Regions from separate parts of the Homo sapiens genome. Here region 2 is linked to region 1. Evidence: fine-mapped QTL for protein levels in blood plasma. A gene starts in region 1. The other region holds a variant in brackets. All regions are shown on one strand. Distances are between the middles of the regions.

Evidence for each region. PIP is the chance, under the fine-mapping model, that this variant and not a neighbour inherited with it causes the effect. Protein levels are from the aptamer-based SomaScan assay of Sun 2018.
Region 2: its variant is fine-mapped to the plasma level of the FJX1 protein (Sun 2018, PIP 0.95).

What each region holds. Positions count from the first base shown.
Region 1 is chr11:35,603,888-35,619,380 of GRCh38, forward strand. FJX1 (four-jointed box kinase 1) reads left to right here and starts at 14,573. Exons shown (of 1, transcript NM_014344.4): 1 at 14,573-15,493. The coding sequence starts at 14,750. RefSeq lists silencers at 14,161-14,250, 14,281-14,610, 14,432-14,593, 14,691-14,760, 14,781-15,040 and 1 more and an enhancer at 14,893-15,493.
Region 2 is chr11:36,151,073-36,167,515 of GRCh38, forward strand. All of the region lies in intron 4 of LDLRAD3 (low density lipoprotein receptor class A domain containing 3), which reads left to right. Among named protein-coding and RNA genes, the nearest start is that of COMMD9, 130 kb to the right of the region's middle. RefSeq lists an enhancer at 2,285-2,454. The variant C/A (reference allele first, on the strand shown) is at 6,280.

The sequences.
Region 1 (15,493 bases):
TTTGGGAGGCCAAGACGGGCGGATCACGAGGTCAGGAGATCGAGACCGTCCTGGCTAACACGGCGAAACCCCGTCTCTACTTAAAAAATACAAAAAAAAATAGCCGGGCGTGGTCGCGGGCGCCTATAGTCCCAGCTACTGGGAAGGCTGAGGTAGGAGAATCGCGTGAACTCGGGAGGCGGAGCCTGCAGTGAGCCGAGATGGCGCCACTGCACTCCAGCCTCGGCGACAGAGTGAGACTCCGTCTTAAAAAAAAAAAAGAAAGGACGCTTAAATGAAGGAACTCATTCATTTGTCCATCCATCCACCACCGACCCACCCATTCACTGATAATTAGAATTCTAGCTCCTTTAGATCCCTCCATAGGTCGGCACCAGTATCTAGGCTCCATCCTCATGCAAACAGTGCCACTTTGCAAGCCTTAAACAAATGCAGGTGATACCCCTGGCCCCTGGTTTTTAATGGCACTCAACTCCCCTCCCTTCCTTTCCATCTCCACTGCTGCCACCCAAGCCCACACCCTTGCTACCTTAATTCCAGCTCCATTGGGGCAACTTCTTAACAGTCACCTATCTATCTGCCTTTTGACCATCTGATGCCATAAAGCATGAATTATTCATTTAAGAGCATTCCCTTGATCATTTCAGTCTGCTCAAAAATATATGCTGAGTATAATGAATTTAGATAGATGTCCAGGAATATAAGAAATTTTTTGAAAAAGAAAAAGAAGAAAGTCCTTTCTCTTCAAATTTCCTTTTCCCAAGGTAAGGTATGTCAACAGTTAGATATGTATCCTCTCAGACTTTTTTCAAGGAATAAATATATTTTTTACTTTTCTTTTTCAACAAAGCACACTATAGCTTTATAAAAGTTACTATAGTACAAGAGAGGGACTGCCCTGAGATCACATAAAAAACCATCCCTACATGATTCCTTAGGGCCACATTCACTCAAAATAATGGAAGTTTAAACTCAACTGCCCTTCTGGGGGAGCACTCTGAACACAATTGGAATACAACTCTAATTTTGTTGCTGTGATATTTCTGTTGTTACATTCTCCACTGACTTAATTAGTGCATGCTATTGTCTGACACAATGTCACTTTTACTCCAGTTATAGCCAGAGGCAGTTAGCACAAAATTCACAATATTTTAAATTCCAATAAAACTATCCCGCCTAATGGTCCTGTTTCAGCAACTTTAGAGGGTAGAACACCAGCATCTGAAGCTGCAAATGCGAAAAAAAAGCTTTCCATGGTGTCTCAGAAAGAGTACTCCTCAGAGGGTCCATGGCTGGGCATGAACTCCTGAGAGTTCCTGGTGCTTTGTTCTCCCAAACCATACACAAAAGAGCTGACTCAAAGGCTTGGCTTAAAATGATGTTAATACCATGCTGGTTCTGGGAGCAAATATTATATCATAATTTCCAATCTGTTGTAGTCAAGACTATGACTACTCAACAGTTCTGTGACCTGTCCCAGAGCAGCCAGGGATGGGTACCAAAGCTGCCAGTCTTGGGTCCTTTCAAGCTAGCTTTCCAATACAGATGGGTGGTCAGGACCGGGTGACCTGAAGACACACTGGCCCAGGTTTGAATCTGGCCTTAGCATTTAAGAGTCCTATCATCTTAAGCAATTTACAAGTCTCTGAAGCTTGGTTTGCTCATCTGTAAATGGGGCTTATAAAACCCACCTGAAAGGGTTTGTGAGGCTATGTGAGCTGCCTGGCATGTAGCAAGACTCGGTAACTGGTATCCGTTATTAGTCTATCCCTGGTTGTTAGAGATGTGACTTCTGCCTTCCAATAAGTAATTTCTGATCTCTTCCCCAGCAACTGCCCAACTCCACTTCCAAAGAAAAAAAAAACAAATCACAAGGAATGGGTGGGCGGCAGAGGGCAGGATTTATTGCCACTAGAAAGGACTCTTACAGGCTGACCGGAGGGGAGCTAGCTGAGCAAGTCCTCTGTGGCGCAGATGTTGCCAGGAAGCATTACAGAGAACACAGAACATTCCTCCTCCCCCCCTAAACTGGCTAAGCTCTCTGCTTCTCACTTTATCCTCAACCTCTTGGGCCTTGGCTGGGTGCCTCTTTGCTGGGAAACACGGATGGTCCACATAGAAAATGCAGTCTGGATTTGAGCTCGCCTTAGAAAAGCCCTAAATCAGTCTGCCCCAGGGCAATGACATGTTTGTCTCTCTCTCTGTCTTTCACACACACACGCACATGCACACACATATGCACACGTACAGATTATACTTTGTGTGCCTTCTGTATGCTTCATATTCTCTGCCTCCCAAATGACAGCTGTAAAATGACAGCTAGTGATAGAAAAATCAAAAGATCCTCTATTACTTTTCTTTACCCTAATAAAGGTCTCAAATTCCCTTTCTAACCGGAGGGGCAGCACTAAAACAAATTTATGGAAATTCTGGATCTGGTAACCATTGGAGTCAAGAAGACAAGTGTTGTTATTGTTGTGTGGGTGTGTTTGCCATCATAATCAACATTTATTCAGACCCAGGGCAGACGTGTCACTGCGATGTATCACCAAGCACATGAATGATGAATCCTGCTGGTTCCTTGTAAAAGGATGCATAAAACACATTTTGTCGAGATCTTACAGTATAGCTCTACTTGCTTTATCCATTGTTAGAGGTTTCACGTTATTATTTTCAAAGAAATGCAAGATTATAACTTTTTAAAAAAATCAAACAACACAAAATTGTTGGGATGGACATGTGCAGAATCACAGTCCAGCACAGAACTGTTCCCTTACATACTAAAGTCTGGATGAGCCGATGCTGGAAACCTGGTCCTAAAATAGACTAATCAGATTCCTCCTTCCTGGAATATTAAAGCTTGAATGGAAGGTGCCTGTAGCTGAGACATCTTATACCCACAACCCTTGATCAAAGGCGCTCCTGTTTACATACCCAGGGCCGCCAATTCTGGTGTTTGCTGGTGCCATTGATGCTTCTATTGATGCTGTTACTAGTAGTGAGTATAAATTTTGCAATCAACCTGGGCACAGTGGCTCATGCCTGTAATCCCAGGAGTGAGAGGCCAAGGTGGGAAGATCGCTTGAGCCCAGGAGTTCAAGACCAGCCTGGGCAACAAATTGAGACCACGTCTCTACAAAAAAATTAAAAACTTAGCTGGGCATGGTGGCATGTGCCTGTACTCCCAGCTACTTGAGAGGCTGAGGCTGGAGGATCCCTTGAGCCCAGGAGTTCGAGGCTGCAGTGAGCTATGATTGCTCCACTGCACTCCAGCCTGGGTGACAGAGCGAGACCCTGTCTCAAAAGAAAGCCACAAAAAACAGATTTCACAATCACACAGACAGATGTACAAAAATGTCACATTAGTACTCTCTATCTGATCATAACTCTTAACGTGAGCATCCACACATCCATTAATACTTACATATCATTCCCACAATGAGTTATAAAGTAAAAACGTATGCAGTATAAAAGTGAAAGTGCCCCCCACACACAAACATCTTCTTGGGAGTAATGCCATTAACAGGTTAGTGTGTGTCCTCCAAGACATTCTGTGCAGCTTCATGTGTGATTTTTAATATTTATTGAGTGCCTACTATATGCCAGAAACTGCATTATAACTTTTCACTTGCTCTAATCCCATAATCTCATTGAATTCTTGTAATACTTCCGCAAGGCAAGCATTAATATCCTATTTTTACAAATGAGAAAACCAAGGTGGGAAGACTTCTATAGTCCAGCTACTCTCACTTATCCTAAAAAGCCATGCAGACCTGTTGTCACCCCTAACTAAATGGCCCTCCCAATGGGGAGAGATGAAGACAAAGTTTAACATCATGCTTTGATCTGCTGACTTGATTTTGCCCTGAGTGAGAGGGGGTATCATGCACAGGAGCAGAAAAACAGGAGGAAGCTTTTTGCTTGTTACCATTTCCTGTTAACTATCTCAGAGTTGTTGTATAATCTTTTTCCCCCAAAAAAATTTCACTCAGCAAATAAGTCAATAATCAGTGATTACCTGCACTTTCTTTCTCTGACTTCTTTGGTTAGCTCTTCTGCTTATTGAAACAGGTAAGCAGAGAAAAGTATTTAAAAATAATCTCTCTCTCTTTTCCCTAACTTTTCTTGCTCATTTTCCTTCCCCACTTCCTTTCTTTCATAAGTGCTAGTAACAGAGATAGAAGAGTCCAACGCAGGCAGGTCACTTGAGGCCAGGAGTTCAAGACCAGCCTGACCAACACGGTGAAACCCTGTTTCTACCAAAAAAAAAAATACAAACATTAGCAGGGTGTGGTGGCACATGCTTGTAGTCCCAGCTACTTGGGAAGCTGAGGCATGACAATCACTTAAACCAGGGAAATGGAGGTTGCAGTGAGCCGAGATCACACCACTGCACTCCAGCCTGGGTGATGGAGCAAGACTCTGTCTCAAAAAAGAGAGAGAAAGCACCATGGAATGGGAAAGGAGTGTCTAAATATTCTAGCTTTTTAGCAATCCTTGGTTTCTTTTTTCTGTCCTCATTATTGGAGTTTTAGCAGCCATTGTAACATACAGGTAACATGCACCTGTAACTATGTGGAAAACATGAGATAGAGATAGAATCTGCAGATGTGAGTCACACTGGGCAAAGACGGAGTGTCCTGTAAAACCTCTGAGGTGAAACTCAGGTAAAGTGCATTCATGTTCTTGGTGTGTCAGGAACTAGCTGAGAACCTAGGGCTCATCACGCAACTCTCTGAAGCTCAGCTTTCTTCTTCATCAGTAGGAACAGTAACTAACCCCTGCCTTACTACCCCTCCCTAGCAGGTTGTTTTGAAAACCCAATGAGATCAGCCTGTGAAACTGCTCGGCCAAACTGCAAGGAGCTAGATAATAACCATTGTTATTCCTCAGCTTTTGTCCTGCTATTCCTCAGGCCGAGATTGTAAAATGTAGCCATTTTTTAAACTCAAGCAGCAAGAAGTGGCCTTTAAAGTTTCTTTCTTCTTTTATTCTTCAGGTGAAATGAAAGGGAAGGAGACATTCAGCATCAAGTCTCAATGTGTGGTGTGAAACAAACACACCCAGCCCCACAGAGGCATCTTCCCTGGGGCAATCTCAGAGTTTGCTCATGGGAGGGGCAAAACCAGAGGAGAAATGACAGCAGGTGTTCTTGCATTGCCATTCTTGTCCAGGCTGATCTGCTCCCCAGACAGAGACAGTGCCATTTCCAGGATTGCCAGGCCAACCCTCCTCTTTCTGGATCAATCACATCCCACTCAATAAGGTATTAATCCTGTGGAGCTTTCTGTACTGCAACGTACCTCCCAGTAAATGGGCTTGGGCTTAATCATTCAGCAGAGATGAGGATGCAGGTAGTACCTATATCAAACAGCCTTGAGAAAGACGACGTGCAGGTACTAAGGAGAGAGGCAATTCCCCTGTAAGAGTCCCCTTTGCTAATTCACCAGTGTTTCTCAGCCCCAGGAAGCCAAGTGGCATTGTAGTTAACATAACCTTGGTCTTTTGGCAGACAAGAGTTGGGGTTCCTCTTTTACCCAATAGCAGAAGTCTTCTGGTCTGAGGCTTACTCTAATGATGCTCCTTTTTCCCATGAATGAAATGGGAAAATAAGATCTTGCGGTGTTGTGGGAGGATCTTAAAGATTAAGTGCTTGGAAAACTCTCAGCACACTGCCTGACGTGTAGAAAGTATGCTGAAAATGTTAAATTGTGTCTACCAGAAATCCCTTCAGGGACCCCCCAATTTGATCCCTAGAAAAACCTTGACCTGAACTAGAAGCTGAGATCCTGAATGGATCCTGAATGGGAGTAGCCCTGTTTTACATGATGTAAGAGGAAAGTTTCACCTGTTTCCCCACACGGGCGGGAGAGAGAAAGGAAAGAGAAGACAGCTGCATGGATGAAGACCTTGCGCAGTGCAGTGACCTCTCCTCAGCGAGCCCCACCAGATCTTCAGGAAAGTCAATGAACTCATGATATCTTGGTCCAAATGCAGGCGGGGGGGTGGTTAAGGCAGTGAACTTCACACCCATGCTGATGTGTGTTGGAGCCAAAGTCACAACTGTGAAAGCAGGAAGTGGACACAGACAGAAGTTTGAGGCACAAAGCTCCAGGGACTCTCAGGAACAGGGGAAAGTCTTTGAACCTCCCTGCCACCGAGACCATACAATAGGAATACAAATAGGAATTTAGGCTAAGTCCAATTGGATCTCAAAAAAGCAGGTGGCTTCAACTGACAACAGGGTACATCATTATTATCATCATGATCATCACCATCACTGCCATCACCAACATCATCAAATGATGTTGTCTGCCTATGGAATGCAAAAAGCTGATTTTCGGCAACCAAAGCTAGGGCCCTGGAAGCTAACACATTCTTAACCAGGGCTGCATTACCTAAGAACTTCTGTTTTTTCACTCACCTGATTGTGGAAATATCAAACTACCTCTACGCTCACTATTCCCCATCAGTGAGTGTCTGTAAGTTATCCCTTGCCTTTTCCTACTCTTGCCAGCCATTTTTCAGTCCAGCAGCAATGGCTTTTCCTGGGTCTGGAAGTCTCCTGGTCTCCCACTTAGGTGACTCACTATTCCGAAGCCACTTTTCTGCACTGCAGTAAGCCCCCAGTTACAAATTACTTACCTGCTGGCCATCATTTTAATGTAAATGGATTTTAAAAAGCAGCAAAGGAATATATTTTCATTTGGAGTTAAAGCATCCATTTTTTATTTGAGTGTGAGCCTGGTCTAGGAGAGATGGCAGAAGAATGGCTCCAAGGCTAATATGGTTAATGATTATGATGGAGATCCCATGAGCAGCCGATATTTCACTTGCAACCATCTCGATCCGGGCTTTGCTGGCTGCAGTACTTTCTTTTTTTCACAGCTACTTCCATTAACACCCACCGCCTATGATAGAACCATTATGATAATATCTCTGCTTTCGGCAGCCTCAATTGGTCTTGACACATTATCACCCTAAGAGCTTAGCCACGTCGCACTAAGTCCTATTTATAATAACCCTTGGCAGGAGCTACCAAAATAAAACCTGGTACTTATGAACTACCTTTCATCTGAGGAAATCAGAAAGCTTTACAAGCTTAATTAAGCTTCAGCATCTATCTGACTGATGAGATATGTGGGGCCTTGGAAAGCTGAGGAGGCACAGAATCACTAATTGTGCACTGGATAAATCTCTGGGTGGCAACGAAGAATAGAAATCAACAAAGAAGAACGAGAGTCACCTCTTTTAGTGGGAGTGTTTGTTGAGTGAATTTTTTCAGGGTGGGTTGAGACCAACAATCATAGGTTATTGATGAAGGGGCCATGGAGGGTCTCTAATGAGGTGGCTCTCAATCTAGGGCGGGGGCCTGAGATTTACTTCTTTTGCCAAAAGAGGATTAAGCTAATTCAACACACTCAAGGGCTTTCAAGGACAAAGAAATTGAGCTCCTGAAAGATGTGGTAATCTGCCTGTGGGCACACAGCTGTTGAGCTCACACACTGTTCCCTCTACTTGGCTGAATCTCCCACCCCACCTGTAAATCTCCACTTCCCCTTCAAGACTCATCTTAACACCTGCCTCCTCGGTGAAGCCTTCCTGGACTTCCCTGGCAGAATCAGTCACTCCCTATTCTATGCTCCTGCGTGTGCTTTCTATTTCCATAATATCTACAGCAATTGATATTTATTGAGTCCTTTCTAAGTGCTTAAGGTACATTTTATCCATACAATAATGAGGCAGGTACAGTTACCATCTCCATTCTACAGATGAGTTAAGTGGTCCGGAGAGGCTAAGTGATTTTCCCAAGATGGTACAGCTCATAGGTGCAAGACTCAGCCTGGCTGCAGAGCACATGTTCCAAAACATTAAACCACACTACTTTCCCAGTAGCCCAGTTGTGATGGAAGAGATCTGTTTGTTTATAAGTCAGCCTCCTTCCTTAGTTTGTAAGCTCTGATGTGAAAGGGTATGTCATTCAGGAGAATTTGGGCTGCAAACAACAGAAACCCCAACTCAGAGTAGCTTAAACCACAGGAAATCTAGAGGAAGGGCATTTCCAGAGTTGATTAACTTGGGGGCTTGGTGACATCAGCAAGGATCCAGGTTCCTTCCATCTCTCTACTCTGCCTTCCTGATTGTGTGAACGTAGTTCCCCTTGCATTAACATGACTTCCTCAGTTCCAGGCCTCCCATCCAGCCTGAACCATGCAGAAAAGGTGCCATATCTTTCTTGTGTCTCTGTAAGAGTACAGACAACTTTTCCAGAAACCTTCCACTGGGCTTCCCCCGTAACATTCACTAGCCAGAATGGTCTCACATGCCTAAGCCTTAACCAGTCACTGCAAGGAATTGAAAGCACCATGACTGGTTCAGCCCAAACAGGATTCAGCATCCCTTAAAGGTTAAAGGCACAGAGGATGAAGGTAGAGACCTGCCAAAAAGGAGGAAGGGAAGGCGGAGGATGAAAAGAAGACAACAAACGTTCCCTGATGCAGGTGTGAAGGAAGATCTGATGCCCAATCACTTATTCCTCAGTCCTTTGGCCTTTACCATGTGGGCAACAAATGTCTGTGGAACTAAATTATAGTAGAGAAATTCATGTCTCCAAATGCCCAGTCCAGAATTCTTACCATCATACTCTGTAACCAGGACTGAAATATGTGTTGGCGACTGCTCTAAAATTTACTAAATTGATTCACCGGTGCTCCAACCTTTAGATTCGAGTCTTTAACACTAGTGTCTGCAGGAACCTTTGCAAAGCAGGTCCAAAAGAGAGCTAGGTGGAATAAAGAGAATCGTAAAAATGTGTCTCATCACAATTTACAAGGTTCTTGTCAACCATGACTTTCTTTCCAGAAACACAATGTGTTCTTAAAAGTGGGACTTGTTCAAGCAGATAGGTTCATTGCATTCAAAGACTACTCTATTTCCTGACCTCCTTCTAGCTCTCCAGTAGGATTTATCTGGAACCAGGCATCAATATACCCACCCTTGACAGCCAAGAATGTGAGAATGAGATCAGTTAAGCAATTTTTGGAAGACCCAGATCATAGTCAAATAGAGATACCAAGAAAAGGAAACTGATCCTCAAGCAGAAACATAATGTACCCTAGGGTAGAAAAGACGGGAAGGAGGGAATGGCTTAGTTCAGGCTTACTATAACAGAGCGCCATTGGCTGGGGTAGTTTAAACAACAAACATTTGAGCGGGCGCAGGGGATCACACCTGTAATCCCAGCACTCTGAGAGGCCAAGGCGGGGGGATCATTTGAGGCCAGGAGTTTGAGACCTGCCTGGCCAACATGGAGAAACCCCATCTCTACCAAAAATAAAACTAAAAATAAAAAAAATTAGCCGGACGTAATTGTGGTGGCACACACCTGTAATCCCAGCTACTCGAGAGGCTGAGGCAAGAAAATTGGCTGAGGCAAGAAAATCAGTGTAGGTTGCAGTGAGCCGAGATTGTGCCACTGTACTCCAGCCTGGGTGATAGAGCAAGACTCTGCCTCAAAAAAAAATATATAGATAGATACATAGATAGATAGATGATAGATAGATAGATAGATAGATAGATAGATAGATAGATAGAGATATCTATCTATCTATCTACATATAGAGAGAGAGAGACAGAGAGAGAGAGGTTGGGAGGTCCAGGATCAAGGTGCCAGAAGACTGGGTGTCTAGTGGGGCTACTCTTCCTTGCTCATAGGCAGCGGTATTCTTTCTGGGTCCTCACATGATGAAAACAGAGCTGGAGAGCTTACTGGGGTCTCTTTTATAAGGACACTAATCTCATTTATGAGGGCTCTACCCTCATGATTTGATCACCTCCCAAAGGCCCTACCTCCTAATGCCACCATATTGGGAGTTATGATCTCAACATATTAATTTATGGTGCAAGGAGGAACACAAACATTCAGTCCGTAACAGAGATACATACATAATAAAATTATAGCCCAGGGGGTTAGAAAACTCCCCAGGGTCAAAGAGTAGTGGCCAATGTAGGAGTCATACCACTTCCATGGAATATTATACTCATCTCTGACATCTTTTGTCCCCTCTCTTCCTTTTTGTAGAAGCACGTGGAAGGGTACATTTGGACGCCTCTGTCTTTTCCAGGGGCTTATAACTCAGGAGATCCAGAAAAGGTCAGGATTGAAGGAGGCAGACTAGTGAGAGGAAGCCAGAAGCTGTCTGCCCGAGGCTGGCTGGAGGCTCTGGGCATTTAACAAGAGTTACACTGGGAACCTTGGTAGAAGCCAGGTGGTCCAGCTCCATGGGGAAGAAATATTGCAAAATTATCAGGAAAGACACCATTTCAGGCATAAAGCAGGTGCATTGAGCTGGAACACCACTTGTATTAGGTCTCTCAAGACCAAGTGAGACTTGGTGGAGGACAGCAACAAGAGAAGGAAGACATCCCCATCTGAGCACTGAAACAGTGAAATAGAAAGGAAATAGAAAGGAAAAAGAACAACAACAGCTATACTATAGTGAACACTTAGATGCTCTTTTAAGCACTTTAAATATAAGCACTAATTTAATCATCACAATAATCTATAAGATTTGTTCCTATTACTAGTAATCATGAGATATTGTATATTGTTATAATTTTTGTTAGTAATACTAGTAATACTGTTCTTATTGCATTTTACAGATATATACACTGAGGCACAAAGGGGTTAAGTAACTTACCCGAAGTCACATGCCTGGTAAGTGGCAGGACTGGGTTTTAATGAGACAATCTGGCTTGACAGTTCACACTCTTAACCATTTCACTTGGGAACAAACCCCAGAGAACACATGAAACCAAAATTTCATCTCAGTTGAATCTATTTTGATTTAATGTAATAATTTCTGCACCTGACATTTCCCTAGCAGTTTATAATTTACAAAAGGTTTGGTCCCCATCATTTTGGAATCGCAGCCCTGCCACTTCCTTGCTGCATGACCTCATTCCACTGATTGGCTAAGCTTCCACTTCCCCATCTGTAAAGTGGGTATAATAATACTTTTGGGGGGGTTTCATGAGATAAAGCACATGCAGGGTTTAGCTCCACACCGAGCCCATAATAAGAGTTCAATAAGTGTTTGCTGCCACTGATGCTGTGGTTATTATTAATATTTCACTTGAGCTGCATGACAACCCTGTGAGTTAGGAAGGATTTATTAACTTATTTCTCAGGTTCTGAAACTGAAACTCACAGAAAGTAAATAACTAGAACAAGGAACAAGCCAGAAAGTGCTAATGCCAGACTTGGAAAATATTCCAATTCCAAGCCTCCTCCCCTGCTTCCAACCCTCAACTCCACCTCCTCTCTTTCCCCCAGGAGGCACCATTACATGAACCAGATCATTCTTCAAACAGGACTGTGGAAAAGTTTGAAGATATTGGAAGTTCAGGCTCAGGGATAAATTCTAAGGAGTATTAAGAAAGTCATAAAAGTGCAAATGGATTTCTCATCCCCAAGCAACTGCCAGAGGGCAGAAGTGACTGAGGTGATTAACTATGCTACCCCACAGAGCCAAAGTGGTTTGGCCACAGGTGGCAGGGGAGTGTCCTCAGTCCAGAAAATAAAGGAGAATGGGAGTATTTTCATCTAACAGCTAAACAGAGGCATGTTTTTAAACCCTGTCTCAAATAATCAAATACCATTCCAAAACTGCATTCCACTTTGAGGAAGGGGCAGTGTTTGTTCCTTTGGTTTTCTGTATTTCTGCATTTCAATTAATTTGTTAAAGTTTAACAAATTAATGCATCCTGTTCTGGTACATGATGCATTCAGTCCTATGGCTATAGGCAAAGGGCTGCTCAATGATAAAATTAGTCCATCTTATGAGGTGTACGATCTTAGTCAATTTATTTAAGTCTGGGTTTTTTTCATCAGTACCAGCAATATGGTTAGGAGATTCCAGGATTTCTAGTCTCTGGATTTGAAGCCAGCCCTCCCAGAATTAAAATCATGTGCTTCCCCTCACATCTATCATGCAAAACCCTCACCAATATTTTTTCTTTTTCAAATGAGTGGAAGTTCTTATTTTGTATTCTTTAATCAGCTGAACAATAACTCACAACCGTTGGACAAAATTGTTTTGCATTATTTAGTAGTAAGGTATTTAATTTAAAAAAACTTGATACATGCTACTTGCATCTCATTAGCATTCTAACGATGTATTCAGCAAATTGTTGTTGAACACACACTAAGTGCCAGGCATTGTGCCCAGGCAGCCATAAAACAATGGACAAGACAGACTCCCCAGGAAGTTTACAATGGTAGTTACTTACAGCTTTTGTTAGCAGCCAAAAAGACAGAGACCCCAACTACTTTGGATTTCTCCATATCCCCTAGGACATAGCTTGGTACACAGTAGACATTTAATAGTCTTCCGAATTTAACTTCAACAATTAATCATCCAGTTAAAAATGTCTACTTTTCTCCAATTAGATGATACTCTACTTATGCCCACTAGGTGGCGATCTTGCTTATAGTTTGCCCACGCTGAAAGAGGCTGCCTTTCAAATAAATACATATATATCCCAGTAGAAGTTAAACCAAAAGACAAAAAAATTAAATTTATTGAGTGCTTATTTAGTGTAATATACTATGTTAGGTGGTATAAGAAATAAAAAAATAAGACATAGTCCCTGCCTGCTAGGGAAAGATGAGGAGGGGCTTACATAGGCCAAAAAAATAAGACCTTTGAATGGATTAATATATTTCGATGCAACCATATGGGAGCCATAGTAATCTCATTATCAGATAAGAGTTATAAAATGGCATGGTATAGCCACCATGTGGTTGGGAACAGATTCAACAGTTCATCCAGTATGTACTTAACCACACCAGTGAAAACACTTGACTGTATCCTGGGTCAGTGCTGCAATACTCCAAATGTGGTTTTTTGATGCCTCTGCTCAGCCATAAACATAAGAGTGTCTGCTTTATCACCCTGGAACGCTCTATCACCCTAGAACGTTTTTTCTTTGGAGAATAAAACATAATCAGTGCCAACTGATGAGGTAGTCCAGTTGAAAACCCCCATGTGCACCTGATGGGAAGATGAAAGGAGAGAAAAGATACACACCATGTAAGGAAACAGATTTCAAACTCTGGCCTTTGAGAGGTGGATTCCACCATGCCCCTGATCTTGTGTCTACCCTGGGAATCTCAGTGTGGATCTGGGACTCATTCTGATACAGAGAGGTAAGGGAGGGCCGACTGGCATCCAAGTTTTCCTGGTAAATGTAACCCAGAGGTGGCTGGAAGATGTGTTGGGGTGAAGAGGTTGTTCATTTTGTTTTCTTTGCTCCTTCACCACCTCCCTCCCCCACCACCACCACCATTTCTTTTTCCCTTAAATCGTAAAAGCAGTAAATCAAATGCAGTATGGGATTGAGGTTTTTTTCCTTTCCATTTGAAAAATCCTTTTAATTGAAAAATCACATTTGGGGAACAAAGTGGTCAAATGACAGTGAATTTCAAACTTGAGAATGCTGACTTGATTAAAAAAAAAATACTGATCTTTCTTAATGGAGGGAAAATCAAGTGCATGCGGCCAGGAGACCTGAGTTTGACTTTTAGCTTCGCCCCTTGCTAATTGTGCAATCCTGAGCAACACCCATCCCTTCTCTGTGCCTCAGTTTCCTCATGGACAAAACGGTATCATTTCTTTCGAAAAGTCGTCCCTGACTCCCCTCTCCCCAACACGAGGTTGGATGGCTATAATCTCTCTTAGCAACCTGAGAGTCCCACTGGAATGTAAATTTCAGCAGCACTGGGACCCGGATCTGTGGATTTTGCTTCTGGTAAGCAGAACCAGAACTGAGGGGCAGTCGCTGTGTTGAATGGATGCATGAATGAATGGGAGATGGCCTAGGTGTTCAAGGGGCACGTGCACAGCGAGGCTTCATTCCCTGGGAGTCCGTTGGGAAAGGCAGAGCGGCCAATACTGATTGGTGCTGATGTGCGAGCTCGGAAAAGGGAGTGTCGGTTCAAAGTTGTTGGCTACAGCGGGTTCCTCTTTCCGCTGGAATCACATCCTCTGTGGCTCGGAGACATTCCCAGAGATTTACATAAAGCAGCGTGAATCACCCAGACAGAAACTGAGAAAGCAAAGGGACCCTGCCTGATCCTAGCCTGGCGGAGCTCGGAAAGAGGTGGAAATCTGTCTGAAGTTTGCAGGAGACCCGCGCTGCCTAGGCAAAGGGACCCGGCGACCAAGACACCCCCGCGAGGGCCCAGGGCGCGTCCCTCCCGCCAGGCCCCAGACTCCGGCTCTGCGCCACCCCCTCCTACGCCCCGGCGCGGGCGCAGCCAGTCCGGCTTCCTCCAGGCCCCCAAGTCCCGGACCGAGTGTGGGGCCGCCTCTCCCTCTCGGAAGGAGCCATCGCCGCTTTAAGTGGAAGAGGAGAGGAAGGGGGCGGGGGAGCGGGGGGCGGGGAGCGGAGGCGGAGGAGGGGGAGGGGGATCCCCCTGGCTCCCACGTGGTCCGGGCGCCTGTGAATCGCGCCCACCGGAGGGTCTCACAGCGAAATACAAAAGCAGCTGGGAAGCGGCGGGGACTCGAGTTCCCAGCGCCGGGCGGAGCGCCGGACAGAGCCCCGCAGCGCCCCGCGGCCGCGATGGGGCCGAAGCGCCCGAAGCCCCGGAGCCCACAAACTGCCGGGCCCGCCTCGCCGCCGGGACCCGGGTGCCTGGGCTCGGCTTGAAGCGGCGGCGGCGCACCGGCACAGCCGCGGGAGCATGGGCAGGAGGATGCGGGGCGCCGCCGCCACCGCGGGGCTCTGGCTGCTGGCGCTGGGCTCGCTGCTGGCGCTGTGGGGAGGGCTCCTGCCGCCGCGGACCGAGCTGCCCGCCTCCCGGCCGCCCGAAGACCGACTCCCACGGCGCCCGGCCCGGAGCGGCGGCCCCGCGCCCGCGCCTCGCTTCCCTCTGCCCCCGCCCCTGGCGTGGGACGCCCGCGGCGGCTCCCTGAAAACTTTCCGGGCGCTGCTCACCCTGGCGGCCGGCGCGGACGGCCCGCCCCGGCAGTCCCGGAGCGAGCCCAGGTGGCACGTGTCAGCCAGGCAGCCCCGGCCGGAGGAGAGCGCCGCGGTGCACGGGGGCGTCTTCTGGAGCCGCGGCCTGGAGGAGCAGGTGCCCCCGGGCTTTTCGGAGGCCCAGGCGGCGGCGTGGCTGGAGGCGGCTCGCGGCGCCCGGATGGTGGCCCTGGAGCGCGGGGGTTGCGGGCGCAGCTCCAACCGACTGGCCCGTTTTGCCGACGGCACCCGCGCCTGCGTGCGCTACGGCATCAACCCGGAGCAGATTCAGGGCGAGGCCCTGTCTTACTATCTGGCGCGCCTGCTGGGCCTCCAGCGCCACGTGCCGCCGCTGGCACTGGCTCGGGTGGAGGCTCGGGGCGCGCAGTGGGCGCAGGTGCAGGAGGAGCTGCGCGCTGCGCACTGGACCGAGGGCAGCGTGGTGAGCCTGACACGCTGGCTGCCCAAC
Region 2 (16,443 bases), 550 kb after region 1:
CCACCTTTCAGGCACACTTTTCTGTCTGTCTAGAACGCCCTCACCAGTCTAGCCAGGCCAGAGGTTTCCAGTTGTTCAAATTGTAATTCACATGGTGCTGTTTCAGTGAATCATGCTCATATCTGGGAATGACCTGAATTCTATCCCAGCTCTGATGTACCCACATGGTAACATTAGAGACAGTCATAATAGCAGCTACTGTGTATTGAGCACTTACTACACAATACACAGTATTGTGTAGTAAGATGGGCCAGGGGTGCACATCGCAAAACTTCAGGGGGTGCCATTTACATCGAATACAGAAGAGAGGCACTGCTGGCCACTGTGCCAAGACCTTCATATAGATAATCTCAGCCCTAACAGTTGGACTCTGTTACCGCCATTTTACGAAGAAGGAAACTAAGGCTACAAATGTTAAGTTTCTTGCCCAGGGCCACATAGCTAGTAAACAATTGGGCTGGGCTGTAGTCAACTCAGGTCTCTTTCCAAAGCCCATGGTCTTTCCATGGCACTCCGCTCCCTCCTTAATAGATGCTAAGTTCCGTGAGGGCGGGATCCCACTTTGAATTGTTTTTAGTCTTCCACCTCCTCCATTGAGCTTGATAAATGTATATTGGTCAAAATCCCCAGTCCTGTCTAGTGCCAGTTACACATCAGTGTCTGTAGTAGAGACCCTGGCGCTAGCATGAATTCTACCAAGCAGGCTAGACTTTACAATCAATCAATAGAATAAAAGGAAGGAAAATAAACAGTTCCTCCCAGCCCACTGAGTACTATTGTCTTGTCTCTTAGTACCACTACAAGGAAATGCTAGATCATGAGCTGGGGCTACCAGAGAGCTTCATAGACTTGACCCCAACACTTTAGCTGGATGACTTGGAGAAAATTACCCCAAAGTGTCTGCAGTGACTTCTGTGACCACCACCAGCTTCCCAAACCAGCCCATCCAACTCCCTTTTCCTGAGTGAGGTAAAAACTGGTAGAACCAAGGAATGCTGAATTTCCAAACGCCTCCTAAGGGAACTGAAACCGCAAATTGGCCACTTGGCTGAGAAATGCTCTCTTTCCCTCCAACACACACTTTCCTTTTCCTTTAGCTAAAGAATCCATAGATGAGTCTCACTTTGTGATACACGTGCTCCTGAAAGCTGTGTGGAATTGAGTCATTTTCTAAATTCACCAGGGAATCTTTCCATTTTAAAGAAAATCTCTAGTCAGTTATAAAACCAGATGCTATCAGAGACAGAAAGACCATTAGAGGTTTATCTAATTCAGCTTTCGTCTCATTTTACAGATGAGAAAACCAGAGAGGTTAAGTGACTTGGCCACAGTCACACAGCTCGTTAGCGATAGGAATTGACCTTAAGTCAAACAGAGCCTTAGGTCCTCTGATGCTGGTGCCAGTGCTTTCCCCTTTCCAAACCTCTTTCATAATGAAATCACCCAGCCCCTACCCGTGTCCCTATTCACTCCCACCAAAAAAATCCTCCATATAGTCTGTTTTACAAATTCATCCATTCTTCTTTCAGGGAGGGTTTCATCTATACTTCTGGCTTTGTCTGCTTCCAACTCCCTTTGGCCATTTGCACAGATCAGCTTTTCTAACAGAAAGGTGTGCAGAAAAAAGTTGAAATAGCAGGTCTGTTTTAGGATAAATAGTTGGGACGCTTGACAGCTTGCACCTGGTTTCCCCCAGACTTTACTCCATGCACCTTTTTCCATGCTATTTTTGCTCTGTAACCTTTTGCTCTAATACATTGTGCCTGTGAGTACAAGTATATGCTGAGTCCTGTGAGTCCTCTTAGCAAATCTTCACAATTGGGGTGCTCTTGGGGACCTCCAACAAAGAGGGAGAGGAAGCTTTCAGTCAAGGGTACAATCAAGCAGTCTCCTTTCTTAATTGAGGCAGGGATGATTAAGGTTTGTGGATGAATACTCTGAGGTCCTGCTCACCTGGGTTCCACTCCTGAATCTGCCATTTACCATGGATTTGTGGCAAGTTATTTTCTCACTCTGAGCCTCAGGATCTCCAACAAAGGGGTTAGTAACACTTAATGGCTTCGGGTTCTTGGAGGACGCCGAGAGATGCCCAGCATAGTCGGGGTGCTTGACCAGGATGTGCTCCATGGGCATAGGAACTCTGAGTTGTAGATGTGGTATCCCCACTTCTCAGAACAGGTCCTCCTGCAGCAAATATTTGTTGAATGTATACTTCAGGAGTGAATAAATGCCACCTAACATTGCTGCAGAAAGCACTTGAGCCCAGGAGGGACCGGAGATTATTGTCAAGCAAGATGAGTAAATTCCATATAAGTTTCTGTCTGAGCACTGGCTGGCTCTGGTTGCTGTGGGAGAGAACTTTTAATTGAACACAGTTGGGGGTATCTCTGCTTTCCCAGACCTTTTGCTGGGTCAGTTGGCACCCCTCCCTCTCTTAGGACATTGAGGCTTGTCTCTGGATTACCTTGGTTGATCTATTTCTGGATCTGTCTGTAAATTTGTCATAAAGGTAGACCCTGTTACCAAGTACATGTTCTTAATTAGCAAGACACATTTTGAATGGCTAAGTGGAACATCCCTTTTTGCAATCCCAGTGACCCATTTCCCAAGTGCTCTCTTTTGGCCTTATTTTTTTCTGCTTCTTGAACAAAGGAGAAGGGAGGAATGCAGCTATGTGCATATTTATTTGCTCTAGTGGTGGGCAAATGTTTAAATTCCTGCCATTAGGGGGTTTCTCTAGCTTGCTTTGCTTGTTAATGTTTTTTTTTAACAGGATAAATCATGTGCAAGTGTCATCGATAGACTAACAAGAGGTAGGCGGGCCATGGGAAAGTAGAATTTACCACCTCTCCAACAGTTCAAGGATACTGTTCTTCTAAGTTTTTAAACATTGGTTGGAATTGTGCCTTCAGTGGGGTGTGGGGGAGTTGGAGAGGCACCTTCATCCCAGACTGAAGGCCAGAAGCCTCGGGTTCCAGTTGTGTCTCAACCACTGAGTTGTCCCAGAGACTTTGGCATAAACTGCTTGACTTCCTCGGCCTCTGTTCTTCTTTTTGTAAAGAGATGAGTTCATCCAGAATGTTCTCTCGCATTCTGGCATTCTTAAAGAGTCCCAATTTTGAGCTCAGAGAATGCCACACCGACTGAAAGTAAGTCACACCTTTAAACATCTGGGGGACTTAAATTTGAAGAATGTGCCCATGATACTACCACCACTGATGTACCCAGCCTGCGGGTGAGCCAGGACAGGTAAATGGTGACCCACTGTTAGTGTCCAAGAGATGACTAGACCCCAGGTGGCACAGCCTAGGGGCTCTTGGACCCCACTTATTCCCTTTGTACCCAAGTAGCTTTCCTAAAGCATGTTCCTTAGAACCCTAAATCCACAAGCAGCTCCGCCTGTGGTCACATGAATTTGGGAGGCACTTTCCCAATCTTAGAAATCACAACAGAGGTTTAGAGAAGTCGTAGGGAAAAGAAATTGTTTGTTGTTGTCTAACCTGTGTTTCCTGAACTTAATTGACCAAAAACCCCGTTATTTTCCCCCATTCCATACTGCCTGTAGCCTCCCATGCAAACCCATTTCAGAACCTGCAGCTGCAGTCAGTCTGGAGTCAGGTAACTTAATTAGGAATCTGTTTCATGTCTTATCATTCAGTTCCTATTGGTTAATTTTCTTGGAACTTATGTCAGAGGGACATCCATGTGCATCCTAATGACAGCCTCATTTGAGACAAAATTTTCCATCATGGACAAACCAACCACCAGGTGACCCCAGGCAGTCTCCCCTGGCCTCTACCACAAGTCCCTCTCCCAGGAGCTCATGCTGTCTTTAGGCCCAGTCCATCTGTCTGTCTGCTTCTCTCTCTCCCTTCCTGTCCTCTTTCCTTGGGCAGCTCCTCCTCTTCCCCATTTCCCTGTTTTCCACCCTCTCACCCTTGCCCTTACTTTGAATTCTGCTGGGAAGAGGATGGCCTTTTACCCCAGACCCACAATCTTTCCAGTTCAGGCTGGTTCATTTGCCATCATTTGCTTTCTCATTGATTAGGAATTAATCAATGGCTGACAGTCTCCCCAGAGTGGATCACAGCTGTCTAGGAAATCTGCTGACCTAGAAAGATTTTCAGATGCTGTTAACAACCCACAGATCACGCTGTCAAGTATTTTCTTTCTTCAGCAGCTCTTGGCATGGCGAGCATGTGATTCTGCCCCTCTGCTCTGTGGCCTTTCAGTGACATTCATTATTTATCCGGGTCCTTTGAAGCTCTGCCTCAAAATGTTGCCAGAAATTCCAAATTATTTTCTTCCTTCTTGTTTAAAGAATTTCATCTAAAACTTTGTTTGGAGAGAGCCCGCTGAAGTCATAGTTATATTGACTTCCGCGTCTGTTCCCCAGCTCATCTTTGCTCCCTGTTTTCTCCCCACGCTGGCCTCCGTGCCTGGAACAAGTCAGACTTGTGTTATTTCCCAGCTGTGTGACCTTGAGCAAGTGGCTTAATGTTTCTGAGCCTTAGTTTCTTCCTCTGTAAAATAAGGATAATAATACGTACTTCACAGACTAGTGGTAAGGATTAAATGAGACAATGAGAGAATGCAAAGCACTTAGCCTAGTTCAAGAACATAGTTATCCATCACTTTAGGATACAGCAGGGGCCTCTTGTTCACCCCTGTTATTCCCAGGGGTACCCGCCTGGCTCATAGTAGGTGCGTAGCAAGATTTTTTTCAATGGAAACTAGAGTGGGATGCGCCTATCTAGAAAATCCTCTGTTGGAGCCTAGTCTTGGTCCTTAAAAGTCCTGGGCCTGCCTTCCCCCTGCCTTTAAGAAGCTGAGCCAGCAATAGTAGCATGTGGCCACCTGCAGGGCTCTGTGGAGGAAAGAGCTTTGAGCTGGGAAATTATGTTCTTAGATGAGTCATGTTCTGCCTCACCATTTCTTTAGTGGTTCTCAATCCTAGTTGCACATTAGAATCACCCAGGGAGCAGTTTTTAGAGACTCCATACAAGAGATTGACTCTGCTGATTCGAGGTAGAGCCTTGCGATGTGTCAGAAGTCCTTTGCTTTCGTTGAGAAGAACGTACTGAGTGGAAATTGTATAACCTCATCAACAGCTAAGCACCTGAAGGGATAAAAAAGACCGCCAGTAGTTGGCAGTCTTGGTTGAGGCTTCAAGATTGAATCCAAAGCAGCTTGTGATTCCTTTGGAGTGGCACGATCCCCAACTGAAGAGCTGTTTGCACATACACATTGTCACTGCAAACTCAAAGCCCAAGTTTGTTCGTATAGCCAGCTCTGCCCAGCAGGACCCTGGGTAGGGCCAGGTGCCTTGGCAGAACATGGATGGGGCAGTACAGGGCCACTTGGATCAGGTCCACCCATTTGCCATTGTTAGCATGAGCTGAAAGAAGTTGGGTCTCCCAAGGCAGTGCTGTCTCACTGCAGTAAACAGCAGTTTTCAGAAGATCTACGTCCTTGAAATATACACAGATTGGGTTTTGTTTGTTTACCCACACACAGCCTTCTCTTAGAGGGGAGTTAAGGTAAGGAAATGACTGTCTCAACACTCACACCCTGATGTGGCATTATTTGGCAACAATAACTTCTTCATCATCCCCTCCCCTCCTCATGGCACCCACCCAGCTGGCAGAAAATGACAAAGAAGGAAGATCAGCATTCATCATCTTCAGCATGATATGGTTTCAGAGATTTTTAGCATTTGATTTGTAACATTTCAGAAGGCAACATAAATCAAGCTGGTAATTTGTTTTGTCATGCCAAAAAAAAAGGAAAATCTGAATTCATTTGGGAGAACGTGTGTATGTCAGTCACTGCCTTTTCGGATCTGGTTGAAAAGCTGCAAATATTTTTCTCCACACAAAGTACATTCAGGTTTTGTTGATGATGTTGTTAGTACAGATCTCCTCTGGGGCACTGAGTAACCCTGGGGAGAGGATGGGAAACAGCGTAAGGGCTGTAATTTTCAGCCTGGAATAGAAGCAGCAATTTTAGGCAATTTAAACAATTCTATTAAGGGCAATCTTTTGGTCTCCTGCTGGAAAGAGAGGACCCCATTCAGAATGCTCCCAGTAATGCTGTAAGGGGCTGATGGGGTCTCCAGATTGTATACAGTTTCCTGCACCCCCGAAACCATCATAGAGGATCTCTGCCCCCTCATGCCTTTAAACGGGAACATTAATAATTTCCTGCTTAGTGCAGGATGTAGTCCAAAAACTCAAAATGAGTTGTCCAGATAAAGGGAGACCTCTGGGGGATGCCAGA[C/A]AAACTTGGTCTTGTCAGAAGAGAAAAACTTGAGAGGGAGTTAATTGAAGAGTTTCCCACATTGCAGCTTGTGAGTGGTTCTGTTGCACTTTTGTTGATTTTTAAAATTTCTTTTTATTTAGTCAGTTTTTAAAGTCCCAAATGAACCATGGGGTTCTTGGCCCAGAGAACAGATGAACATTGGTTAGGCCAGGGAGTTATTTTCCAGCAAACTGCCCATGAGTTAAACTCCACTCTGTGGATTGGGGGTCATGATAAGGGAAGGGAGCCCCTACTATTTTGCGGGTCTCTGTTTTGAGTGTCTTAAAATTCTAGTGGAGTAGGAGCCATTGGGACCATCACAGGAAGATATAGCCCCTGGGTGGGAAGCAGGGTGTCTGTCTTTTGGAGGGAGCGGAGTGTCTCCATTTCAGTTGTTGCTGAGACAGGCAAGGTCTGGTGGTTGAGGAAACATCTTTTTCTCTCTGAGCCTCTTTTTGAGCTTAGATTATAAGGAATCTAGATCTGTCACGGGTAGATGCTTCCAGGTTCTGGGAGCAGAAGGCACTGCTACAAGGAGGCAAGTTGGGGACTCAGTAGAAGGTAACCTGTTGGTTAGTAGCTGTTAAGCAATTTGGACCCCAACCTACAATAAGAACTACTTTTATATCACAAATATACAGATAGGAAGTCATTCTACATTCAGCACACTGACGCAGGTATTTTTTAATACATTCTATTCCCTTCTTTTCGTTTTATGCTGGCCCTGACCCACTATGTTAGTTTCTGTACTTATTATACTATTTGGTTGAGACCTGATGTTGAAAAAACATTCCAGTGGGATAGTCTATGAAGATAGCCTCAGCACATGAGTTATGAGAGCTGCCTCAGCTGTGAGAGTTCCAGGCACGTCACTGTCCGGGGGTAATTCCCTTTGAGTTTCATTGAATTTTAAGGAAAAAGCCCCCTTGCTCTTCCTCAAATGCACCAAAGACTCTCTCACCCCAGGATCTTTGCACTTGCTGTTCTGTTCACTTAGAACACCTGTCTTCCATATACCCAAGGGTCCACCTTCAGCTCTTTATCAGGTGCCACCCTCTCAAGGAGAACCCCATCCCCATCCCCACCCCCTGTTTAAAATTGCAACCCATCACCAACCCCGCTCCCTCTTCGTTCCACTTACCATGTTCTGGGCTTTTTTTTTTTTTTTTTTGCCACAGCATTTATTATCTTCTCCCAAACAATATACCCTATAACTTTTTATTATATCTACTCTCTGTCTCTGCCCACTACCATGTAAATTCTGTGAGGGCAGGAATTTCTGTTCTGTATATCATCATATCCCATCAGCTGGAGCAGTGCCTGTGGTGTGACAGATGCTCACTGAAGACTTTGTGGAATGAATAAATGAATGAATTAATGCTGTTAAAATGATAGCCTCTTCTTACTACAACTGTCTTTTATTTTTTTTAATTGATACGTAATAATTGTACATATTTACAGGGTACAATGTGTTGTAATCCATGTATACGTTGTGTAATGATCAAATCAGGGTAATTGGCACATCCATCACCTTATATGTGTGTCATTTCTTTTGGTGACTACATTCAGAAAGGTCTAGCTATTTTGAAATATACAATACATTATTATTAACTATAGCTGCCCTACTGTGCAAGAGAACACCAGTTTTTCTAATTGTAATTTTGTACGTGTTGGCTGCTTTCTTAAATTGTGGAAATTAAAGGAAGGGCTGAACTGTTACTCAGATTTGAATAGAAATGAGGAAGAAGAAGAACAGTGAGATAAGGAGATAGTGACAGTGATACATGTTGACAATTCCATTGAAAAAGAACTTGGCCGGGTGTGGTCGTTCATGGCTGTAATCCCAGCACTTAGGACACGAAGGCCGAAGCATCGCTTGAGCCCAGGAATTTGAGACCAGCCTGGGCAACATAGTGAGACCCCCATCTATATAAAAATTTTAAAAAACTTGCTGGGTATGGTGGTGTTTGCCTGTAGTCCCAGCTACTGGAGAAGCCGAGGTGGGAGGATCACCTGAGCTCGGGAGGTTGATTCTGCGGTGAGCCGTGAGCACGCCACTGGACTCCAGCCTGAGCAACAGAGTCAGACCCTGTCTCTAAAAAGAAAAAGGAGCCAGATGCGGTGGCTCACTGCTGTAATCCCAGGGGAAGCCAAGGCAGAAGGATCACTTGAGGCCAGGAGTTCAAGACCAGCCTGGTCAACATAGTAAAACACCGTCTTTACAGAAACTAAAAAAAAAAAAAAAAAAAAAAAAGCCAGATGTGGTGACATGCTCCTGTAGTCCCAGCTACATGGGAAGCTGAGGTGGGAGGATTGCTTGAGCTTGGGAGGTTGAGGCTGCAGTAAGCCCAGATCATGCCACTGCACTCCAGCCTGGCAACAGAGCGAGGCCCTCAAAAAAAAAGGAGAACTCAGGGGACAAGAATCAAGGTGGCAAAGGCCTATGACCTTTGCCCACAGAATAACCACCCCTACCCTGGAGGGCCAGGACGGTTCCTTCCTCTCCTTCCATCCCAAGCCTGAGTCTTATGTTCCCTGCCCAGTAGTGAGTCCTCCGGCAACTCATCAGCAACACAGAGCCGCAGGGCTTTTGTTGGGACCCCCTTGAAAACACTCAGTCCCACGTTGCTGCACATTGCTAGTGGTTGATAAGACCGTTGCAGGAAAATTTATAAATCCGTGGCCTTACTGGCTGTGAGCGAGGCAGATAAGCCACAGTCTGACAGAAAGAAAAGCATCTCCCTTCCCTGTTCTTGCCTGAGATGCAAAGAATAAACCTGAATCTGTGTGGTGAATGAACGTCCTGGTGAAGTGAACGTGATAAAATTCCAGCTTGCTGTTTTGTGGGACGTATTGCAGGCACCGCATCTTTGTTCTCAGTCCCCTCTGCCCTTTGTGTGGGCCAGCCTCGAGGGACGTGGCCCAGTGAATCCTGGGGGAAAATCACGCTCACAGAAAGCCAGCGTGATTTCCCAGCCAGAGGAGATAAGGCCCGTGGGAGTGAATGGCAGCTTAGCGACCCCTGTTGCACCAAATCCTCCTTGAAATATTTAATTATAAGATACATGAATGCTTATCCCAGCAGTTATTTTTTCCTCTTAACCCATATTTAGCCTTGCAGCAAAAAATAAAATATGGTTCCTGGGAGTTTATCTTTCTTTTAATGAGGCTCTCAGGGGTCAGTTTTTTCCCTTAAAAAATTTTTGGCCCATCGTTCAACCCAGGAACTCTGCTTGTCAGAGAGGATCTTTGAATAAAATAATGCTGTCTGGTTCTTTTCATAGGTATCGTTTACCCTTTCATATTGGTTTTCAGTTTTAAAAAGTATTTTCACATAGAAGAAATCGGGACTGAAAATGCGTTAGTGACCAGCTCAAAGTCACACAATGACTTAGTGAGAACTCGAAATGGAAACAGGATCTTTTTTTTGGCGTGGGGAGGGACAGAGTTTCGCTCTTGTTGCCCAGGCTGGAGTGCAATGGCGCAATCTGGGCTCACTGCAACCTCCGCCTCCCAGGTTCAAGTGATTCTCCTGCCTCACCCTCCCGAGTAGTTGGGATTACAGGCACCTGCAACCACACCCAGCTAATTTCTGTATTTTCAGTAGAAATAGGGTTTCACCATGTTGGCCAGGCTGGTCTTGAACGCCTGACCTCAGGTGATCTGCCCACCTCAGCCTCCCAAAGTGCTGGGATTACAGGCGTGAGCCACCGCGCCTGGCCAGAAGCAGGATCTTGAAGCTCTCAGAATGCCCGTCTCTCCTTCTGTGCACAGTGAGGGCTTCCCATTCTTTCTGATTTCCCTTTCCTGTAGCAGAGAGGGGAAGATACTCCACATTAGTCAAGAGCTTTAGGGTACCAGGCACTGTGTGTAAAGTACATTTCTTATATTACCCCTTTGATTCCTCCCAGGAATCCTATGGCATCTATAATACTATCCCCATTTTCTAAATGAGGAAATGGAACTTCAGAGTGATTTTGTTCCAAGTAGAAATCAGGCTCTGGCAACTGCTTCCTGCTAGCAGGGTGAGATACAAACTTTTACAAATAGCAGACAGGCCATCATATAAATATATGATGTATTTATAAATACATACCTGTAGATATATTTCTAAATACATATCTGTAGATGTGTTTATAAATGTGGGGGAAACAGATAAAAATCCCTACCCTTGTGGAGTCTACATTCTGTTGATTCATTTTGGGATGGATGGATGGATGGATGGATGGATGGAGTACAACAATCTTCAGAGGCCAACTCCACTTCAGTCCCGGCAAATTCCTCTTACAGAAGAGCGGTAAGATACATTGGTAGACATATACAACCTGGGCTTCAGACCAGGGAAGTTTTATTTTGCCACTAAATTTAGCCACTGTATCAACACATCTCCCAGCTTACAAGATGACTGAGAACAAGTGTAAGTTCTTGAGGACACAAGCCCTTGCCTTAGTCAGCTTTGTGTGCCCTGCTGTACTTAATGCTTCATGGGTGTTCATTAAATGTTTAAATGAATGAGATGCATAATTCAGTTACGATGAGGCTCTCTGAGAATGAGTTAACATCTATCGAGAGTTGTGCAGTCCGCAGACTTAGAAATATCCAAAAATAATCACCCCTAGAGAGATCTCTGCAAATCAGTAATGAAAGAACTGAAGTAAAACTATAAATCATTCCGTTAACGGTTTTATACATTTACAAGTAAGTAATTTTGGAAGCAAAATTGGTGTATAAGCTGTATTTAGCCTCGATGTGCTAAGCAACTTTGAACCAAATATAAATTCCTGGCGTGGTATTTTTAAGCCACGGTGGGGGCAGGGTGCTGGGGAAAAAGTTGAGTTGGAGGAGCATCAAAGCTATTTTTGTAAGTTTCATCTACATTTTTAGAAAGATGCATTTTTGAAGAATTGGGATATCAGTCACTTCTCCCTGGCAGGATTCCTCATCAAGGGAGAAATGACAGCATGTCCGATCTTCCTTGAGTCTCTAAAGATCGCATTATTAAGATGGTTTCTGTCACTGTGCACCATGTCTGAGAACATGTCTTGGCACACCACCCTGTCCTTCGTCTCCTGATTTATAGCTTGCAATAGACTTGTTGAGTGTGAAGCTAGAACCCAGACAGAATGTTAATGCAGGGAAATGACATGTGAATCAGTGGTGCCCTGGGCTTTGAGTGCACATGACTGAGGGGAGGCCCAGTCAGCTGTGGCTGTGCTCCTCACATTAGCTTTGATTTGCTAGACATTGCATGAAGAATGAAGCAGAGCCTTAGCCGTGAGCTTCTCAGACTGGAGCTAAGCCGTGGTCCCTAAGTCTATAGCTTCCCACTGGAGACTGACTTAATTAGCCAGGATCCTGAGCTTGGCTAATGGTGGGCCCAGTGAATGCTTGATTTGCAATGGAAATGCCCAATTTGGTATGGAGTCTCCATTTTTAAAATGCATTGGCTAACTTTGCAGCTTCCCCCATCCCCTTCTCATGACAGTCTCCCTTTCTGGAATATTTCAAATGCAAAGGGGGAAACAGGGTTGTCGTTATATCTGGATCCTATCCACAAGGGCTCAGCAGCTGTGATGTTCAGCAGGCCAAATACAGACCCAAGAGACCAAACAGCTTCTTCCTTCCCCAAGCAGTTAAAACAAAGATCTGCTCACTGCCTTGCCTGTGTGTCTTCATGGGTGTTTGATATCAGGGTAAACTCTAGGGGCTAAAAGTGGGAGCAGAAAAAGCAATGCAAACGCATTAGGCGAGAAGCCAGGGCGGATCAGCAAAAGGTCTGGAATTATGGAAGGCTGAAGATAAGCAGTTTTGGTTGATTTCCAACACAGGCAGTTGCCTGCTTTAATGTCTGGATAAGAACTTGCCTGTAATTGGTAGATGGATTGCTTGGCTATAAATGGAGCCTGAAAAGAGTCTATTCCCTTCCAGCAATTAAACATCCCCCTGACTGCTGCCACTTTCTCCACTCTGATTATTCAGCAGACCCATTCTTCTTAATACACAGCACCGAGGTGTGGCTTAGCCCAGCCTGGTTTGAATTAGCTTATGGGATCCACATTAATGAAGCCTAGCCTTACTTCCCTGCATATGATGTGTGACTGGGTATAGTCAAGTGCCCAGTGTAGGTAAATAGATTTCGGAGAATGGTGATGTAAGATACCTACCAACCATATGTGGAAATCCTTTTCAGGATGGTTTCCCTCTGCAAGACTGTAAAGGTAGGAAATGCACTGCCTTTCCCACCCCTTCACTCCTGCACCCATTTGATAACCCACTTGAGTGTTTAGAACAGTCTTCCAAAGAGGGATGTGTGCAAGGTGATTGTTTAGGGAAGGAAGGGAGGGAGGGAGGGAGGGAAAAGGGAGAGAGAAAGGGAAAAGGGGAGGGGAAGAAGGGCAGGAAGAAAGAAAAGCTTTAGATTTGATATATAGATTGACGGGATCATGTATATAATGGAAATATACATATATTGGGGGAATAGTGTCTCAAATGGTGGAAGTTCACTGGTTTAGAGCACTGAATGAGCCACCTCAATTTTGCTCCCGTTTTCATCTTTGTCCCTAGTGCTGAGTGGCTTCAGTTTTCACTGCTTTGATCTATGTCCTGCCTGACTGGATTAAGAAAATAGAGACCTAGAGCTTCCAGTGGGAAGAGAGGAAATCGGTGACAGAACTGAATTAAGACATCTTTCTAGAAGGAGCCATTTTCCAGCCTCTTACCACTGCCCTGGGTGATCCTCTAGGTCACACAGGAGCTGATATCATGGTTGAGCCCTGGGAATCTCAGCCACGCTCTGTCCCTGTGCATCTCATACAAGCTTCCATGGTGATGAAAATTGTTAAGATGTCTTATGTGAAGCACATGGGCGTTGGGTTTGCTCATCACAAGCTGCCTGCTGCTGATGCTGTTTCACCTATTTAAAATACCCAAGTGTTGCTTTATTTAAAATTGAACAAGAGTCAGCCACTTAGAACATTTATCAATAAACTCATCACTCAAATGGAATTGTGCCCCTGCCCCTGCACTTGCATATGGTCTTAGATTGCTGCTCATTTCCAGGCACAGATGGCTTGCTTCAAAATTTTTTGCTTGAACAGGGTAAAAAAGCGAGAGTTGGTAGCTTTTAAGTGTACAAACTTGCCAAGAAAGGAAAATGCTGTGAGTGGGGATGATTGCTGGCAAGCAGCAGGGTCCGATATAATCCATGTCTGTCCATCCGTGTGTCTGTTCTTCAGCCCTGTGTGGCAGATCCCCTTCCAGTGAGTGAGCTTTAGCAAATGGAGTGTCTATGACAGCTATTTGAATCATCCTAGAATCTACTGGCTTAAAGCTGACAGCTCTGACTCTTCCTTTAACTTCTTAAGTGCAGTGTTTTGGACAGAGATAGAAGCTTTGCGAGCAGGCAGCCCGCCAGATTCTTCTATGTCCCAGATCTGGATGTTAGATTAGAAAATTTGATATTTACAAATGTGCTTCACCTTGAATTAGCCATGACCCAGTTGCTATTGTTTGTTGAAAGAGATATCTTTTAGAATTTTACTTATACAACTGACTTGCTTTTCAAAAGCACAATAAAATCTTATGTTCCCATTATAAAAGTACATATACTCATTACAGGATGTTTGGAAAATATAGAACAGGGAAAATTTTACCCACATTTCCTGCTTCCATAAATAATCACTATTAGCAGTTGGCGTATTTCCTCCCATATCCTTTTCCATGCCTAGGCAATGGAGGCTTTTTGTTCTTGCAACCGTGATACTTTTTATTCAGTTTTACATCCTACTTTTTTTCCCACTTATATTAATAAATATTTTCCCATGTTGTTATAAACTCTTAGTAAGCATTCTTAATGGTTGTATGATATTCTATTAAATGGGTGCATCTTATTTTACTTAGCCACACATCTATTGATGAACATTTAGATTTTGTCAATACATTGTTGTAGACGAAGTTGTGATGGCTTTAAACCTTTTTTTTTTTGCTTTCGTCTTTTGAATTACTTCCTTAGGATAGATTACCGTAAGATTTATATGAGGTATGAACACCTTTAGGGCCCATTACACTTATATTACTAACTTGTTATCCAAATGGATATCTGTTTACACCCCCACAAGCAATTTGATAGAACCTTTTTTTCATCACGTAATTGCCAACATAGGATATTATCATTTTAAAAAATCATTCTTGCACTGCTAGGCAAGAAATGGTATCTAATTGCAGCTCCCTTCTAAGTGTTGATTGAGCCTTTATTTAGGAAGGTCCTGCTGTGTTTTGCATAGTTCATTGGAAATTCTAGGAAAGTGCTCTTGAAAAAGGAAATTATTTATTTTCATTCTACTTTTTCAAACTTCTCACCTCCCCCTCCCACCCCCCAGTTTTAAGTCATCTTACATGAAGAAATATAAGACCAAATTACAGAAGCAGGGAATTAATGATCCAAAGATTCTAGTTAACAAGATGATCACCCAGGTTTCAAAAAATAAGTGATCTCATTTTTATGGCTTAAATATTTTAGTAACCGTTGAGTGCCTACTGTTTATATTTCTTTTCTAGGCTGACTGGCTTGCTTCCTCCCTCCCTCCCTCCCTCCCTCCCTCCCTCCCTTCCTTCCTTCCTTCCTTCCTTCCTCTATTCCATCCTCTCCTCTCCTCCCTCCTCTCCCATCCTAGACAGCTTAGGTGAAGGGCTGACAGAGGGAAATTGACTGGCTAATCTATGTGCAGTAGCCCCTGGTTCCTGCTCTTTCCGCTGAACATGATTTATAGTTGTTTGGCAGAAGGTCAAAATCTGATTCCATAGAGTGGGAATGCAGGGGGAAATATTTGATTTCTTTGACACAGTTCATTAAAAATTCATACATATGGATCTGGAAATGAAACATTGCTCCATGTCAACATGAGTTACAGTGGGAGCCTAGAGCAAGACATGAGTATTCAAGTGAGACACTGTCACCAGGTAATCACATCGGCATGGCAGTGCCTCTCAGTGAGACATGGAAGGGGGAAAGGTGACCTGGACTCTGGAGGGTGGAAATGAAATTTTTCTCTTTTGCCTAAAGGCTTTCCTTGTAAATAGAAGCCAGTTTGTTAGAAAACCTCTGTTACAAAGAGCCCATTTCATTCATGTATTCTTTTGTCCATTTGTTTGACAAATATTTATTTATTTTCCACTATTGGTAAGGTGTATATTGATTAATAAGAGAGATGACTTATTTCAAATTTCCCTGTTATTTCTACTTTGTTTCTTAATTCTTCCTCTTTGACCCTTTACTTTAGAGCTATCTGACTTTTACAATGTCTAGACTTCAAGCCTTTTATTATAAATACTGTAAATGGTTGGAAACATGATCTTCTAGCCCAGTACTTCTCAAATTGTAATGTACACACAAATCATCTGGGGATCTGTTAAAATGAAGATTCTGATTCAGTAGGTCCAGGATGGGGCCAGAGAGAATGCATGTCTGTCAAATTCCCAGGAGATGCCGCTGCTGCTGATCCAAGCACCATTTGAATAGCGAGGCTCTAGTCTACCATATCTGTACTGGGTTGAATAATGTTCTCCATAAATTCATAACCACCCAGCACCTGTGTATGTGACCTTATTTGGATATAGTTTTTGCAGATGTAATCAAGTTAAGATGGTTTTATGGTCAACATTCTTCAGGAAAATGGAATTAATAGAATAGGATGTAGATAGAATGATATTAATTTATTTTAAGGAATTGGTTCATGCAGTTGTTCGGGGCTAGCTAGTCCAAAATCTGCAGGGCAGGTCAGCAAGCTGGAGACCAAGAGAAGAGTAGATGTTGCAGTCTTGAGTCAGAAGGGAGTCTGGAAGCAGAATTCCTTCTTTTCCCGGGAACCTCAGTCTTTTCTCTGAAAGCCTTCAACTGATTGGATGAGGCCCGCCCACACTATTTGCTTGAACTCAGAGATGTTAATCTCATCTGAAGAAATATCTTCACAGCTGCATCTGGACTGGTGGTGGACTAAAAGCTGATTACCATAGCCTAGCTAAGTTGACACATAAAATTAACCATCACGATGAGGTCATACTGGATTAGGGTGGGCCCTAAATCCAATATGTCTCATGTCCCTGTAAGAAGAAGGAATTTTGGACACAGAGACACAGACTCACAGG